Linked DNA regions of Homo sapiens. The protein of the gene in region 1 purifies or fractionates together with the protein of each later gene. This does not show direct contact. Each region holds a gene or a part of one and is shown in the gene's direction. Other genes may lie near its edges.

Evidence for each region. The genes of interacting proteins can lie anywhere in the genome.
Region 2: the proteins of C17orf78 (region 1) and NPTN purify together in Homo sapiens (affinity purification with mass spectrometry; one large-scale study listed by BioGRID and IntAct). This does not show direct contact.
Region 3: the proteins of C17orf78 (region 1) and ATP2B3 purify together in Homo sapiens (affinity purification with mass spectrometry; one large-scale study listed by BioGRID and IntAct). This does not show direct contact.
Region 4: the proteins of C17orf78 (region 1) and CELSR2 purify together in Homo sapiens (affinity purification with mass spectrometry; one large-scale study listed by BioGRID and IntAct). This does not show direct contact.

The regions. Positions count from the first base shown.
Region 1 is NC_000017.11:37,374,640-37,378,837, forward strand, and holds the start of C17orf78 (uncharacterized protein C17orf78), read left to right. Parts: upstream 1-1,345; 5' UTR 1,346-1,453; coding exon 1,454-1,511; intron 1,512-3,239; coding exon 3,240-3,326; intron 3,327-4,198.
Region 2 is NC_000015.10:73,570,687-73,574,389, reverse strand, and holds part of NPTN (neuroplastin isoform b precursor), read left to right. Parts: intron 1-594; coding exon 595-728; intron 729-3,703. UniProt on the Homo sapiens protein: Probable homophilic and heterophilic cell adhesion molecule involved in long term potentiation at hippocampal excitatory synapses through activation of p38MAPK. May also regulate neurite outgrowth by activating the FGFR1 signaling pathway.
Region 3 is NC_000023.11:153,524,142-153,527,844, forward strand, and holds part of ATP2B3 (plasma membrane calcium-transporting ATPase 3), read left to right. Parts: intron 1-3,703. UniProt on the Homo sapiens protein: ATP-driven Ca(2+) ion pump involved in the maintenance of basal intracellular Ca(2+) levels at the presynaptic terminals. Uses ATP as an energy source to transport cytosolic Ca(2+) ions across the plasma membrane to the extracellular compartment.
Region 4 is NC_000001.11:109,252,539-109,256,241, forward strand, and holds part of CELSR2 (cadherin EGF LAG seven-pass G-type receptor 2 precursor), read left to right. Parts: coding exon 1-851; intron 852-3,703. UniProt on the Homo sapiens protein: Receptor that may have an important role in cell/cell signaling during nervous system formation.

The DNA.
Region 1 (4,198 bases):
ATTACACTAGACACTAAAAAAATACAAATTTGGAAAAATCTTCAACAACAGTTATCTGTCTAGGAAAACCTTCCCAAGCCACAGACAGTACCACTCACCTGCCGTATTTAGCTCTTCCTCACAACCTCTCAGCCCAATGGTCATCAGAATGTTGTCCACCAATACTCACTTCACTATTCAGGAGTGTGAAGATGTGCAAAACTCAATAGGTATGTCTGTGCTAATGTGAGTTTATATATATAACTGGATTAATTCTAGAGATCATATGGTTCACGGCCGGCTGGGGTGGCTCACGGCTGTAATCCCAGCACTTTGGGAGGCCGATGGGGGCAGATCACTTGAGGTCAGGAGTTCGAGACCAGCCTGGCCAACATGGTGAAACCTGTCTCTACTAAAAATATAAAAATTAGCCGGCAGGGTGGCACACACATTTAATCCCAGCTATTCAGGAGACTGAGGCAGGAGAATCACTTGAACCCAGGAGATGAAGGTTGCAGTGAGCCAAGATTATGCCACTGCACTCCAGCCTGGGCAACAGAACGAGACTCCATTTCACAAAAAAAAAGGCCAGGCACGGTGGCTCATGCCTGTAATCCCAGCACTTCGGGAGGCCGAGGCAGGTGGATCACGAGATCAGGAGATTAAGACCATCCTGTCTAACACGGTGAAACGCTGTCTCTACTAAAAATACAAAAACATTAGCCAGGCATGGTAGTGGGCGCCTGTAGTCCCACCTACTCAGGAGGCTGAGGCAGGAGAATGGCGTGAACCTGGGAGACAGAGCTTGCAGTGAGCCGAGATCGTGTCACTACACTCCAGCCTGGGCGACCGAGCGAGACTCTGCCTCAAAAAAAAAAGAGATCATATGGTTCAGGACTCTCAATTTATAGAAGAGAACATTTAGATCCCAAGAAGTCAAGTAATTTTCTCAAGGTGATAGCTCATAAAAGGGCCTGTACTAGAACTCAATTGTACTGACTCCTAGTCCTAGTTTCCTGCTCTATTTCTATAATTCCTGCTCTAGAAATTATATTCCTTACTAGAAATCTCCACATCTTTTCATGAAAGTATATAAATCTCTGTGCCTGTGTCAGTGAGCATGCATGTAAATGTCTACGTGTCTATCTGCAAGTATTTGTAAAGCATATCAATGGGCGTTTATGGCCTTCCTGCTCGAGAAACCTCTAGGTAATCTAGTTCTCTATGTCGGCACCGGCAGCGAAGTCAGAAGAAGTCTGAGTGAATTATTAATAAGCAGAATTAGCCCTTTCTCCAATTAGATCTATTCCTGGGTCTTCAGGAAATGGGGCAAAATAATCAGGGTGGAATCAGAGTCTCTCAGGGTCAAACTTGGTTCCAGCTGCGTGTGGTGAAAGCAACTAGAGGCAGAGCTATCAAGGGCTGTGACAGATGAGCAGTGGTCTGTCTGCAATGAGCATGTGCTCAAGCTAACATGGATACCATCTTGGTCTTCAGCCTAATCATTGCATCCTATGATGCCAACAAGAAAGGTATGTAATTCTCTAGCCTAATCTCCTGGAAAATACAGAGAGAGGCCTAGAAAGAGTTTCGGGGTCTCTTCCACCAGATAGAGATGTAGCTGATATCCAGCAAGCAATACTTTCCAGAGTTAATCCCATGTATCCACTCGCCTCTAAGAAGGACTGCAACTTATTCATTCCAGAGAGATAGCTGTCTGTTTCATGATGAGAGGTCTTCAGAGAATGTGATGCATTCTTATGTCTTGTTCATGTAATTAACATTAAAAGTCCTTTCACTGTTGGATGGCTTTCTTTAGAGTTTCAGTATTGTCATCACCTAAGGTTCCCAAATTCATACTGTTCATAAGATGTTGCCTTTTTTAAGTTGGTACATGTAAATAGCTAGACGGTGATATTCTTGGGTGGGGAGAGCTGAGGGAAAGGGTGATATTGGGTGGAATGGCATCATTTGCTGCTCTTTGGTAACTGCTTATTTAAAATATGAGTTTTCAAAGTTTCATAAACATTTCATCTCTAAAATTAGCTAATCAAGGCTGGGCACGGTGGCTCATGACTGTAATCCCAGCACTTTGGGAGGCCAAGATTGGTGGATCACCTGAGGTCAGGAGTTCGAGACCAGCCTGGCCAACATGGCGAAACCCCATCTCTACTAAAAGTGCAAAAATTAGCCAGGCATGGTGGCATGCACCTGTAATCTCAGCTACTCGGGTGGCTGAGGCATAAGAATCACTTAAACCTGGGAGGTGAGGTTGCAATGAGCTGAGATCGTACCACTGAAATCCAGCCTAGGTAACAGAATGAGACTCTGTCTCAAAAAATAAAAAATTAAAATAAAAAAATAAAATTAGCTAATCAGAATTAAGACCAAATGGCACAAAGTGCAGCAGTAACGAATTTGACAAATTATAAAAATGTCACAACCCTTTGAATTATGTGCCAAAAAGCATAAATAACTAAGACCTATGGTTCTGTGGAAACCTATAGAGATACCAAGGTCAGACAATATAAATCTCCAAAAGCTTTATTTAATACAAGAAAGAAGACAGAATAGGAGGGAGAAGAGAAAATAAGCAGTATTTAAGGAAATGGGTTGGTTAGACTTTCATTAACTTAGTAAATTTTCTTAACTCTATTTGACCTTTCTTTGTCCTAAGGGTAATAGATTGGTACACAGTATTCTTTATACTAGGTCAACTACTACTTTGTATGTATTTGGCTGGGTGTTCTTTTTTGAGGGCCGGGCGTGGTGGCTCACACCTGTCATCCTAGCACTTTTGGGAGGCCAAGGCAGGTGGATCACCTGAAGTAAGGAGTTTGAGACCAGCATAGCCAAAATGGCGAAACCCCATCTCTACTAAAAATACAAAAATTAGCTGGGCATGGTGGTGCATGCCCGTAATCCCAGCTACTCGGGAGGCTGAGGCAGAAGAATCCCTTGAACCCAGGAGGTGAATGTTGCAATGAGCGGAGATCACGTCACTGCACTCCATCCTGGGCGACAGAGTGAGACTCCGTCTCAATAAATAAATAAATAAATAAATAAATAAATAAATAAATAAATAAAAGTAAAGTCTTTTTAGAGAGTGTTTGATCTCCCAAGTTGCAAGTTTTATGAGCAGGAACTGCAATCTTTCATATCTTCTCCATTGCCCAGAATTCTAAAAAGTAAGTACCAGTAAATTCTGATTTTCCCCAAACCTTCCCCGGTTCCCCTCCTCCCCCTCTGCTCACCCCCAGACCTCAGAGATAGCAGTTGCCGACTGGAACAGCTGCCTGGGATCTTCCCAAAAGACGTGAGAAGCATCAGAGAATTGCAAATGCAAGGTAGGGAATGGGTCCTTTCTGGAAAATGATATTGCCATTCCAAAAAATTTTTACCTTTAAAAGATATCTCATCTTCCCACTTCCTAGCCCATATCTCAAATATCCTATTTTAAGGATATGTATCCTCCCAGGGGGCTTTCTGGAAACCAATCTTTAAATTAACTGTCATTACCTAAGGCATGCTTATATTACTCAAATGGATGGAGATGAAAAAAGAGAAGGAGGCAGAACCTACCCCTCTCTGCATTAAAGAAAAATCTATGAGCATTTCTCTGTGCTAAATTTACTGCTGTCACCAACCTTCATGGGAACCATGGCAGAAGAAAGGCAGGACTTGTCTATTAGTACTATGAACACAAACTGAAGAAGTTAACTAAAAGGAGAGAAAGTACAGCAGTGGAGTTTAGCAGGGGTCATGAATGGAAATGGGTTAGCTTGGCACTGTTCAGATTAAAAACCAGCTTTGGCCAGGCATGGTGGCTCACACCTGTAATCCCAGCACTTTGGGAGGCCAAGGCAGGTGGATCACTTGAGCTTACGAGTTTGAGACTAGCCTGACCAACATAGTGAAACCCCATCTCTACTAAAGATACAAAAATCAGCTGGATGTGGTGGTGCACGCCTGTAACCCCAGCTACCTGGGAGGCTGAGGCAGGAGAATCACTTGAACCAGAGAGGCGGAGGTTGCAGTGAGCTGAGATTGCGCCATTGCACTCCAGCCTGAGCAACAAGAGCAAAACTCTGGGCAACAAGAGCAAAACTCAGAGATCGTGCCATTGCACTCTAGCCTGGACCACAAGAGCAAACGCTTCAAGGTCGGGTGCGGTGGCTCATGTCTGTAATCCCAGCACTTTGGGAGGCCAAGGTGGGAG
Region 2 (3,703 bases), on another chromosome or scaffold:
TCCTGTTCATTCCTTTCTTCCTCCTTGTGAAGACCAGTTTCTGGATTCCCTCTTTCCTGGGAGAGCCTTGGTCATTGTTACTTATTGAGTAGCTTCTCCAAGCATTCATTGTTTTTACATACCTTGTAATAGGACTTGATTGTAGTTGTTTTATCTCAGAATCTCATTTCCTTAAGGGAATGTGTGATATTTGACAGGATGCATAACTGTTGTTCATGCAGGTGTTTTAAGAAAAAACTTGGGCCGATAGAAGAGATAATAGTGTTTGTTTGCATTTTCTTTAAAGGTAGGCTTAATTGAGGGCAGTTGGACCTGCATCCTTTTCCAGTAGGTTGGAGAATCACCTACATTAGTAGAGCCTCATATATTAGTAACCCTGGTATCTGCCTGGGCATCTTTAGCGGGTGGGGGGTAGAGGATGGGTTTGGTCCCTTTACCCTATTCTGACCTGAAATGCTCTTCATCAAAGCTGAGTATGACAGTAAGCATAAAGACTGACTACATTACAAGCAGGGCTCTGAGCCAGAAGGTGGGGCCTTTGTATCCTGTTTGGAGTAGACTTCCGTGGTAACTGCGTCTAACGCTTTCTCACAGCCGCTCCTGACATCACTGGCCATAAACGGAGTGAGAACAAGAATGAAGGGCAGGATGCCACTATGTATTGCAAGTCAGTTGGCTACCCCCACCCAGACTGGATATGGCGCAAGAAGGAGAACGGGATGCCCATGGTGAGTAGGAGGCAGGCCCGGGTCTCTGGTTGCTGGAGTTTTCCCTGCAGAGGTCCAGACACGTGGGTCAGTTACTGTAGTAGCTGTATCCTCGGATGTGTGCATGGCGAGGGTCACCCTTTCTAGAGTCACGGTTTACAGCATGAATCAAGAGGTCATTGACAGTCTCTTCCAGCACAAAAATCCCTGTACGTGATTTGTTAAAGCTGTCCCTCTGGTAAGAGATTAGATTGCTCACTGTATTAGTCCATTCTCACTTTGCTCTAAAGAACTTCCAGAGACTGGGTAATTTATAAAGAAAAAAGGTTTAATTGGCTCATGATTCCACAGGCTTTACAGGAAGCATTGCCGGGGAGGCCTCAGGAAACACAGGAAAGATGATCTTTCCTATCTTAGACAACAGAGTGACATCTGGCCTGCTTTGAGTTTTATTGCTTTCAGATTACTGTAACTGAAGGTGAGGCATTGACAGGTAATATAGTTAAGATAAAGCTAAATCCAAAGAATTAGCCTCCCCCTCAGGCTTCTTTGATCCTTGAAACTTACCTATTTTTTAGACTGCAGTTGCTGTTTATTTCTTCTTAAGTGATCCCTGTAAGTAGAGAAACTTAGAATCATGGTGGAAGGTGAAGGGGAAGCAGGCAGGTCCTAGGTGGCTGGAGAGGAGGAAGAGAGTGAAGGAGGGAGATGCTACACACTTTTAAACAACCGGGTCTCATGAGAATTCACTGTCAGGAGAACAGCAAAGGGGATATCCGCCCCCATGATCCTGTCACCTCCCACAAGGCCCCTCCTCCAACACTGGGGATTATAATTCACCATGAAATTGGGGTGAAGACAAAATCCAAACCATATCACTTGCCTTCAGGATAGGACACTGAAAGAACCGAGCCTAATTCTCGTCCATTTATCCTGAAGAAAATACTGTTTTTGAAGTGGTCTTAGAGAACCTGCCTTGTTTTTTTAGTAGGAAACAAGGTACTGAGGGCAATTATTAGTACATTCCTGCAACACAGAACATACTGATAAGGAATTGGGGCAACCTGAGGAGGCCCAAGGTACTGAGGGCAATTACTAGTACATTCCTGCAACACAGAACATACTGATAAGGAATCGGGGCAACCTGAGGAGGCCCAAGGGCAGCCTTGGCAGCCTTAGACATTGGGAACCTGACGGTATTTGCCCCAGAAAATGTCAAAGAGAACATCTTTTCCGATCAGTGGGATGATTCATGATGTTGTTTGGAGAGTCAGAGCTTTAGAACCTCACTTTCTCTCTCATTATGATTGTTGACCCATTACCTTTTCTGTCAGAGAGCGTGTCAAGCGTTCCTCTGATCCCATGGATCCTCTTTGATTATCAGTCTTCAGAATCCAAAAGGACCTTAAAGATCATTAATCCATCTTCTTTGGAAGGGTTCCATAGTAGCCAAGATAAATTAGTGGCAAAACCAAGAGTTGTATCTAGTTTTTTTAAATTTCAAGTCCATTATTCTTCCTACTTCATGACATCTTGATAATAAAATGTTGAGTTGTGATAATGACTCCAACATCAGCGATGATTTCAGAGACCCGTTAACGAGGAGCAGGATGAGGATTGCCGAGGTGAAGATGCTGAGTCTTTTTTACAAGACACTGAACTTTCTAAGGCACTGGAGAGGAAATGTCCACTTCTCTCTGCTGGTCACTGGGAAGGAGTGCCCTTGAGCTTTTGCCAAAGCAGGTTGGAATTAACGCAGTATGTGTTTTAATCTGAAAGATGAAGCTTGAGGCATCACAGACTAGCTGTTTTAAAAGCTTACGAGTTCCCCATTTCAGATGTACCTGCACTCAAATGCTGACAAGATTGTATGCCATATCTAGAATCATTTCCAGGATAATATTCCCCTTTTTCTCTCCTATTTCTGATTGTGCTTTAGTTGTTGCAGGGTAAAGACACATGAGTCTGTTTTTTCCCTGCCGGGATCTCATGAGCTGAGTGCAGTGAGCCATCCCGCTGAGTCCCGACCTCTGCCTGTGCACTCTTGCACCTCTGCCTTCACACCCATGCGAATCCCTGCCTGCACTGCTCCTCCCTGTTTGATCAGCTGTCCTCCTCCACAGTCTAGTGCAAATGTTAGCTCATGTGTGAAGCTTTCCCTGACTCTTTCCAGCAGTGGCCACTCACTGTGCCCTACAGCACTCTATACACACGCTCTGTTGGGGCTTCTTAACACATTCCTGAAATCAGTCATCCCTTTTTGGATGTCTGGTTCCCTTTTGAGGCCAAGCTCCTTATTCATTTCTAGGTCTGTCTTCTCCCTATCTCACCTTCTCACTCCCACCTGCCCTTAGTAGGATATAAAGCATGCAGCATATTTTAGTAAATATTTGTTCTCTTTTATTTGTTTGTTTTGTTTTGTGTTAAGACAGGGTCTTGATCTGTCTACCAGGCTGGAGTGCAGCAACCTCCTGGGCTCATGTGATCCTCCTGCCTCAGCCTTCTGTGTAGCTGGGACCACAGGTGTACACCACTATGCTCAGCTAATTTTATTTTTGATTTTTTGTAGAGATGGGGTCTCAGTTTGTTGCCAAGGCCAGTCTTGAACTCCTGGGCTCAAGCGATCCTCCCACCTTAGCTTCCTAAAGTGCTGAGATTACAGGCATGAGCCTCTGTGCCCAGCCACAAATATTTGTTGATTGATTGAATAACCTTTCCTCTAACCTCTAGTCCTTAAATGAAAGGAAAGTTATGAATTTCCCCCAGTCTGACTAGGAGTGAGTTCTTAGCATTGTTTGTGGAGGAAGTTTAAGGAGACTTCCTCAGAACTCACCAAGTGTGAAGTCAGTGTGCTGACTCTGAGGTCATCAGAGAGGCCTGAGGTCCCCGAGGCATGCCTGACTGTAGGGGTTGTACCCCTCCTTCTGCCGTCCTCTTTCTGCTGTGGTTTCTTACCTGGTGTTGGAGGCAGCATTTACTAGGTTGTTGGACTTTTC
Region 3 (3,703 bases), on another chromosome or scaffold:
TGATTTCTTCCATTGTTTCTAGGCTTAGAAAATCCCTTTCGGAAATTTGAGAGCTGTTCATTTCTGAGTTTTCCATGTGTCTTCGTGTGTGTGTGTCTGTGTGTGTGTGTGTGTGTGTATTGGGGTGGTGTAGTTGCATTTTTAAGATACTTAACTCTTTAATTTAGGGATTAGCAAGCTTTTTCTGCAAAAGGCCAGATGGTAAATAGATTTCCAGTTTGCAGGCCACATAGTCTCTGTCCCGACTACTCAACTCTGCATGGTAGCCTGCAAGTAGCCACAGACAATGCGAAATGAGGGGGTGAGGCTGTGTCCCAATAAAACTTTATTCACAAGAACACTGGGCTGCCAGATTTGGCACTTAAGCTGTAATTTGCCAAACCTGTTGAATCCAAATGAGATGTGTCTTAGGGGATAGTTTGAGGTGAGGATCTAAGGTGCATCCTTTGCAGATTGCTAACCAGTTGTCCCCATCTCTAGTAGCAAATCGGTTGTTCCCTGGCTCATTTGCACGCACTGACACTGGTCTGCAGTCAGACCTGGTGCTGGCTGCCTGTCCTGACCCACGGGCCCATCTGTGTGCTGCTGTACCGGTGATGTGCTTTTGCCTCTTGTACCTGGTATCATTTAATACCTGACCTGCCGGCCCCACCTCAGCAATCCTAAAGCTTGCTTCTCTGTCCAGTGGACTTCAGAACCACTTTGTCAAGACCCCCTTCCTCCCTCCCCGCCAAGATAAAGCACTGGGTGATACATTCTCTGGACATCCTCAGAGTTCCGAAGCCGCAGATGAGTCCGGTCCCCATGGGGTGGGGTGGCGGCTGGCTCTGTGCAGATGCTGTGGATTTGACTCTCCGCAGATGGGAGGCGGGTGTGGGCAGTACAGCGCCATCCTGAGTGAAGGCCCCCAGCTGAGGATAGCCAGACGGCCCTGGGAACGCCACAGCCTCCTGACTGAGAAACACGAAAACAAAGCCGGCAGTACAAGAGAGCGCGGGAGATTGGGAAGCCACTGTGGGCCGGCAGAAGATGACCTCAAATGACAGGACTTAGGCCTTTCTGCTGCTCTTTTGGAAATCACTGTCCTGACACTCAGAATTCCCTGCACTCCGGCGTTTCAAATCAAACCCTGAACCGGGTTAAGGCGCATGGAGTGGCCGGTTCGAAACTGAACCTACATTCCCACAGATTGCGGGCCAGGGGTGTGATGGTGGCACAGGGCGTGACCAAATGGGAAGGGGCCCTTTCTCCAGGTTGGACCAGCCCGGCAGTAACCGCTTGGCTCCCTCAAAGAGCAGCAGGAGCAGGAGAGTGTGTCCAGCCCCAATTCTCGGGCAGAGCAAGGGCTCACCAGGCACAAGGGTCCATTCCGCCCCCCACCATGGGCCTCAGCTCCATTTCTCCTGGAAGCATCCAGGACCAGACACTGCCACATCTTGGCTTGGAGCCACAGGCCCAGGAGAGATGGGCTCAGGAGCAGCTGGTCCTGGCTCCTCTGGCTCCTGGGGTCTCTGGGTACCTTCCTGTAGTCAGAGGGCGGCTGCCAGCAGATGGTCCCACGTCTGGTGCAGGAGAAGAGGGAGGGCTGTGGACGGGTAGGGCACGTCTCCCACCTAGTCTCATCTCTCCCTCCTGGCCTGTGGTTCATCTGCCCACAACACTGTGACCAGCAGCTAGGCTTGGAAACCTCTGTCCTGGGGAGTGGAGCAAGAGTCCCCCCTTGTAACCCATCCATGGGGCCAGAGGGTAAGAATGCGCTGACCTGGGGGCCACTGCCCCAGACGCCTGCCCTGGTAGCCCCTAGGGAGGCACTCGTGGCTGTGTCTGTAGGTGGGATGGGGTGGGTCAGGGCTCCCAGGCCACCGCCTGGCCCTCTGCGCCCCATCCACCCTTCCCCGAAGGAGGAAGCTGGGCTATAGCACAATCGTGGGAGGGGGTATCTGAGATGGAGACGGGCAGGGTTGGGGTCTCCCCTAAGGGAGGAGGGGAGGGGGTGAGCACACAGAGCAGAAATCCACCCCTTCAGGTCCTGTCCCCAGCCCAGCTGTGCTCTCCCGGTGCCTTCCCAGTGGGGAGAGCAGGCATCTGTCCATGAGCACAGAGGGGGCGGGAGGAATGGTGCTGATGACAGATGATGATAAGAGGGTCAGGAACTGGAGGAGCAGCTGGTGGTGGGAGGGTAGGGGGAGCTGATGGGCTGTGGGGCGCACTGAGGGAGAGACTCGGAGCCCTGTGTTGGTGTTGGGTCCCGGCCTGAGAGGGGGCCTCTGCCTCTGCACTCCCTTCAGGCACTCCTGGAGCACGGCAGGAACTTGGTGGTGCTTCCTCTGGGCTTTGCTGGAAAAGCTTTGGGCTCGTATGCCGGGTTCCTCGCTCAGAAATAGTGTCTTAGGCAAAATTCAAAAATGAACCAGCAATGCTCAGTTCACGCGATTCAGACAGCAGCCAAGCCCTTGATGACCTTCGCGTCCTGCAGCCTCGGCTGCAGCTTCTGAGGTACCCTCTCTCTGGGCATCCTCGCCACTGGCTCTTCCTCCATCACCACATTTGGCAGCAGGCATCCTGCCCCCTCAGCTGGGGAGAGTGGCACGGATACTTCGGTGTGCTCGTTCCTTGGGTCTAGATCACAGAAGGGCAGGCTTGACTCCCATCTTCAGTTGGAGCCCCCATTTGGAGGTCTGCCTCCCAGATCCTTTTATTGGCCTCTGACCTTGACACCAATGCATCCCCCCAGCCTGTACTCCCAAGGACTTTGGCCTGCTTCCAGAAACCAGGATGCCCTCTCTACTGCCCCTGCCAGGATTCCTAATGGGGCCCCATGGGACTCGTTCCCTAGGAGGACACGTGTATGTGTCCTGGTAGCTCCTTATTTAGTCACTGCCTGTCCAAGCTGGAAGGACTTAGCCCAGGGCCCACAGCCCCATGGCCTCCAGCTGCCTGTAATTTCCTTAATTACCTATTTAGGCCCCGACGGCTTCCGGTCCTCAGAGCTGGCTCTGAGATTGGAAGCGGGCTGGGACGGGCACCGAGGTACCACAGCAGAGCCGGGCCGACTTGGGGCACCTCTCCTCCCATCCACGTGCTCTCTGGCTATGAAGGGCTGGGAGGACAGGGACCCGGCTTCCCATTGGACCCCAAACACGAGGTCTCCGTCCCTTTGTAGGCTAGAGTCTTTCACGCTGGCCACAGCCACAGCGTTTCTAGGTCCCCATGCCGTCCCTGCCTTCGGGGCTGCTGGGCAGGCCCGGGCTGGCAGGAGGGGCGTGGGGAGCACGTAGGGGCAGGGTAGTGGCTGGCCAGGCTCACGCTGCTATGCAGCTCGCACACCCGCTGTAATTGGATAATTAGTGTCATTATGCTTCCTGCTCCCTCGCTCTCTCCTTCTGCAGCTCTTGCCTTCTCTGGCAGGAAACAAATGACTGTCCCCCAACCCTCAGTGTAGACTTCTGGCCCCAATCACAAAGGGGCTTCCAACCTCCCCGTGGGATCCAGGGACACCCAGCATTGTGAGGGCCGCCTGTGTGGGAGACAGGAGCACTGCGGGAGTCCGGGCAAGCTTGGGGAAGCATCCAGAGAGGCACATGGGTTCAGCCCCCGGCCGAACGGAATGTTCTGACTTCACCGGTCGAGCTTGGTCCTGACCTGTGAACTCTGGGGTCCAGCTGGAGTCCAGCTGAAGACTTCAGGACAAGCCTCGGGAGGG
Region 4 (3,703 bases), on another chromosome or scaffold:
CCAGGGCAGTGTCTATGAGGATGTGCCACCCTTCACTAGCGTCCTGCAGATCTCAGCCACTGATCGTGATTCTGGACTTAATGGCAGGGTCTTCTACACCTTCCAAGGAGGCGACGATGGAGACGGTGACTTTATTGTTGAGTCCACGTCAGGCATCGTGCGAACGCTACGGAGGCTGGATCGAGAGAACGTGGCCCAGTATGTCTTGCGGGCATATGCAGTGGACAAGGGGATGCCCCCAGCCCGCACACCTATGGAAGTGACAGTCACTGTGTTGGATGTGAATGACAATCCCCCTGTCTTTGAGCAGGATGAGTTTGATGTGTTTGTGGAAGAGAACAGCCCCATTGGGCTAGCCGTGGCCCGGGTCACAGCCACTGACCCCGATGAAGGCACCAATGCCCAGATTATGTACCAGATTGTGGAGGGCAACATCCCTGAGGTCTTTCAGCTGGACATCTTCTCCGGGGAGCTGACAGCCCTGGTAGACTTAGACTACGAGGACCGGCCTGAGTACGTCCTGGTCATCCAGGCCACGTCAGCTCCTCTGGTGAGCCGGGCTACAGTCCACGTCCGCCTCCTTGACCGCAATGACAACCCACCAGTGCTGGGCAACTTTGAGATCCTTTTCAACAACTATGTCACCAATCGCTCAAGCAGCTTCCCTGGGGGTGCCATTGGCCGAGTACCTGCCCATGACCCTGATATCTCAGATAGTCTGACTTACAGCTTTGAGCGGGGAAATGAACTCAGCCTGGTCCTGCTCAATGCCTCCACGGGTGAGCTGAAGCTAAGCCGCGCACTGGACAACAACCGGCCTCTGGAGGCCATCATGAGCGTGCTGGTGTCAGGTAAGGAAGGGCCCAGGTGGCGCTGGGGTGGGGGTAGCTCGCGGGGATGGTCTGGGCAGCCACTGGAGGTAGGGTGCGATCCAGGAAGCAGCTACAGATCCACCTCCCTGCCCAGTGCCTGGCACAGAGCAGGAGGGGCAAGAGCCAGCTTGGGAAGAAGCCCCAGGAACCCTGGCGGCTGGTGCAGGCCCCACCTTCTGCTGGGCTGGGCTGGGCTGCTTCGGTTGGCTGCCCCCACTGTCTACCAGCCTGTGACGTGGTCGGGGAAGTGTTGTGAGGCTGCCCCGGCTATGGCTGCCAAGAATTGTGAAAAAAGGCGCGTGGAAGCCTGGGGGGCCAGGAGAGCTGGGGGAAGGGCAGAGAGGACTGTGGCGCAGGAGAGGAGGCGAGGCCAGGGCCCCTTCACCCCCATCAAGATATTCCTGCAGTCTCACACAGCCTTTGGCAGAGCTGGGGACCACGGGAGCACAGGGCTGCCGCCACCCAGGGGTCAGGACCCTGTAGTCCTCTTCTGGCCCCTTTTGCCTCCTGGCTGAGCTGCAGAATCGGCTGACAGGGACTTTGTCTAGCGCATTCTTTTCCCTCCAGGCAGAAAGAGCCTGGCCTGGCTCCCCCTTCAGAGCTCCCACAGGAAGTGAGGCCAGAGCTCATTGTCTGTCCAAACAGACCCCACTTTCAGAGTCCGTGGTTCGGGTCTGGCTTGGAGGAGGGGCTGCAATGAAGCTGGGGGGCAGGCTGAGGCCTCGTGGGCCCCCCTTGCCACCTCATGGGCTGTTCTTAGGGTGCCAGGCCTTCCTTTCCTGCTAGCTGTGACCAGCCCAAGCTCCAGGAATGGAGTGTAGGGACCAGGACAGGCCAGTGGACTGGTGAGCTTTGAGGGCAGAGACCCCAAGGCACCTTATCTGAGGAGAGAACAGAGTCCCAGGGCGTGGGAGCCTGGCCGGAACCCAGGCTGGGGCATTCCTGCTGCTTGGCCAAGCACTCAGCCTACAGACTCCCTGGACAGCAGGGCTGGGGGAGGAGAGTTGGAGGGGGTTGGTGACAGTATTCTGTCTTTTTTTATCAGCTGTGGGGAGCCAGAGGTAGCAGCAGGGAGAAGACCACACCCAAGTTGCTGAGTGCCTTCCCCAAGCCTGGGAACAACTGAGACCCTCATGAGGGGATGCTGTTAGCTGCACCCCAGGGGTGGATCAGGTCACATCCCCTCTAGGCAGCCTTCAAATCCATCAGGGAAGGGAGGAAAAGAAGAGGCTGGCAGGCCCCTACTCCCACCCCAGGGAGTGTGGCCTGAAGGGGAAGGAGGGGTATGCCAGAGTCAGGGCGTGGCCTCACTCAGGGTCCTTGCTGGACAGATGCCTCCCTGCCCCACCCTTCAAAGTAGCCACAGGAACCAGGAAGCAGGAGCTTTTCAGGGACTGTGGCTGAGGTTCTGAGCCTCCTGAGACTTCAGTTTCCCCTCCAGGAGGCGGAAGAGGGAGGCTGGAGCTCCTGTGTCCTCAACTGTGCCTGGGCACTTGAGACAAGTGGGAAGGAGGTGGGAAGGAGGGCCTCTCCCTCTGGTCCTCCACACCCAGCCTGCCTTTGGTGAGCGTGGCCAGGCACTGGCAGAGAAGCGCCCCCATTAAGCCTTCGGTCTCCCACCAGGGCAGAGCCCTAGACCTTGGTTCCCTAGTCTAGAGAAGGCTCGGGGCAACATCCAGGACGGCTCCTCCTGGCCCGGCAGCTCTGGCCCCACCCTCTCCCTTCGGCCCTGACCCTTGGAGGCAGTCACCACGGCAACCCCAAAGTTCAGGGAGGCCGGGGTGAGGGGGAGCTGACTCCCACTGCCCCTTTGTTTTCCTCCTCTTGTTCTTTGTCTCTTCTTTCTTTCCCGCCCCTGCCCATGCGGAGCCCTGCAGCACTGCCTCTCTCCGGTGCCCTCTCCCTGCTCCTGCGGCTCTCCGGCTCTCCCACTTGCCCATTGCTGGCTCCTCTCCTGAGGCTTTGTCTTCCCCTGTTTGGTCTCCGTGTTTGTGCCTCCACTCTCTTCCCTATGGCTGCAGCTGCCCCAGCCTGGGCCGATGGCTCCCCTGGAGGCTGAATTCTCCTCGCCTCTTTCTTCCTCTGCTCAGACACGCAGCAGCTCCTGTCCATGGTCTGGGCAGCTCCCAGAACAGCAGAGCCCTCTTGGCCTCCAGTCTCCGCTGGCACATCTGCCAGGGGAAGAGAGGCTGGGAGGCTGACCGGGACCTGGCACTTTTCCAGGTGTGCCTGGCTAAGCTTGGGACACAGGTGGCATTTCCTGGGGTCAGAGGCCATCCCAGCTGTTCCTTTTCTGTCCAGGAAGACAGCTCAGGCAACGTACTCCCCACCCCTGTTCCCATCCTGCCTTTGCACCTGAGGGGTGACCTAGGTCAAGGCAGGGGAGGGTGATATAGAAAGGAGAGAGCAGTGGGTTGACTGTTGGGGATGGGGGACAACAGCAGAGGGGGCAGGTGGCCACAGATGGTGGACCAGATGGGAAGCAACAGAGACATGCTGGGAGAGGGGCCCAGGCGGGGCCTAAGACGATGGCGGTGGGGGACACAGGGAGAAGTGTTTGTTCCCAGGGCTGAGGGGTGGCAAAGTTTCTCCCGCTCCATGGCCTTGGTTGCCCCCTCTCCTCTCTTAATCAGTTATGGGCACTGTGTGTGGAGTCTTGGGCTGCTTTCTGCCTGGAGGGAATATCCCGTCAAGGAATCATTAGGCAGATATACCAGGTATACAAGAGCTCTGTGCCAGCTGAGCATCCTGGTGCGGGGAAGTCTGAAACGGAGAGGAAAGTAGAGCCTGATGACATAAATCTGGGCAGGCTTCCTGGAGCAGGTGAGCTA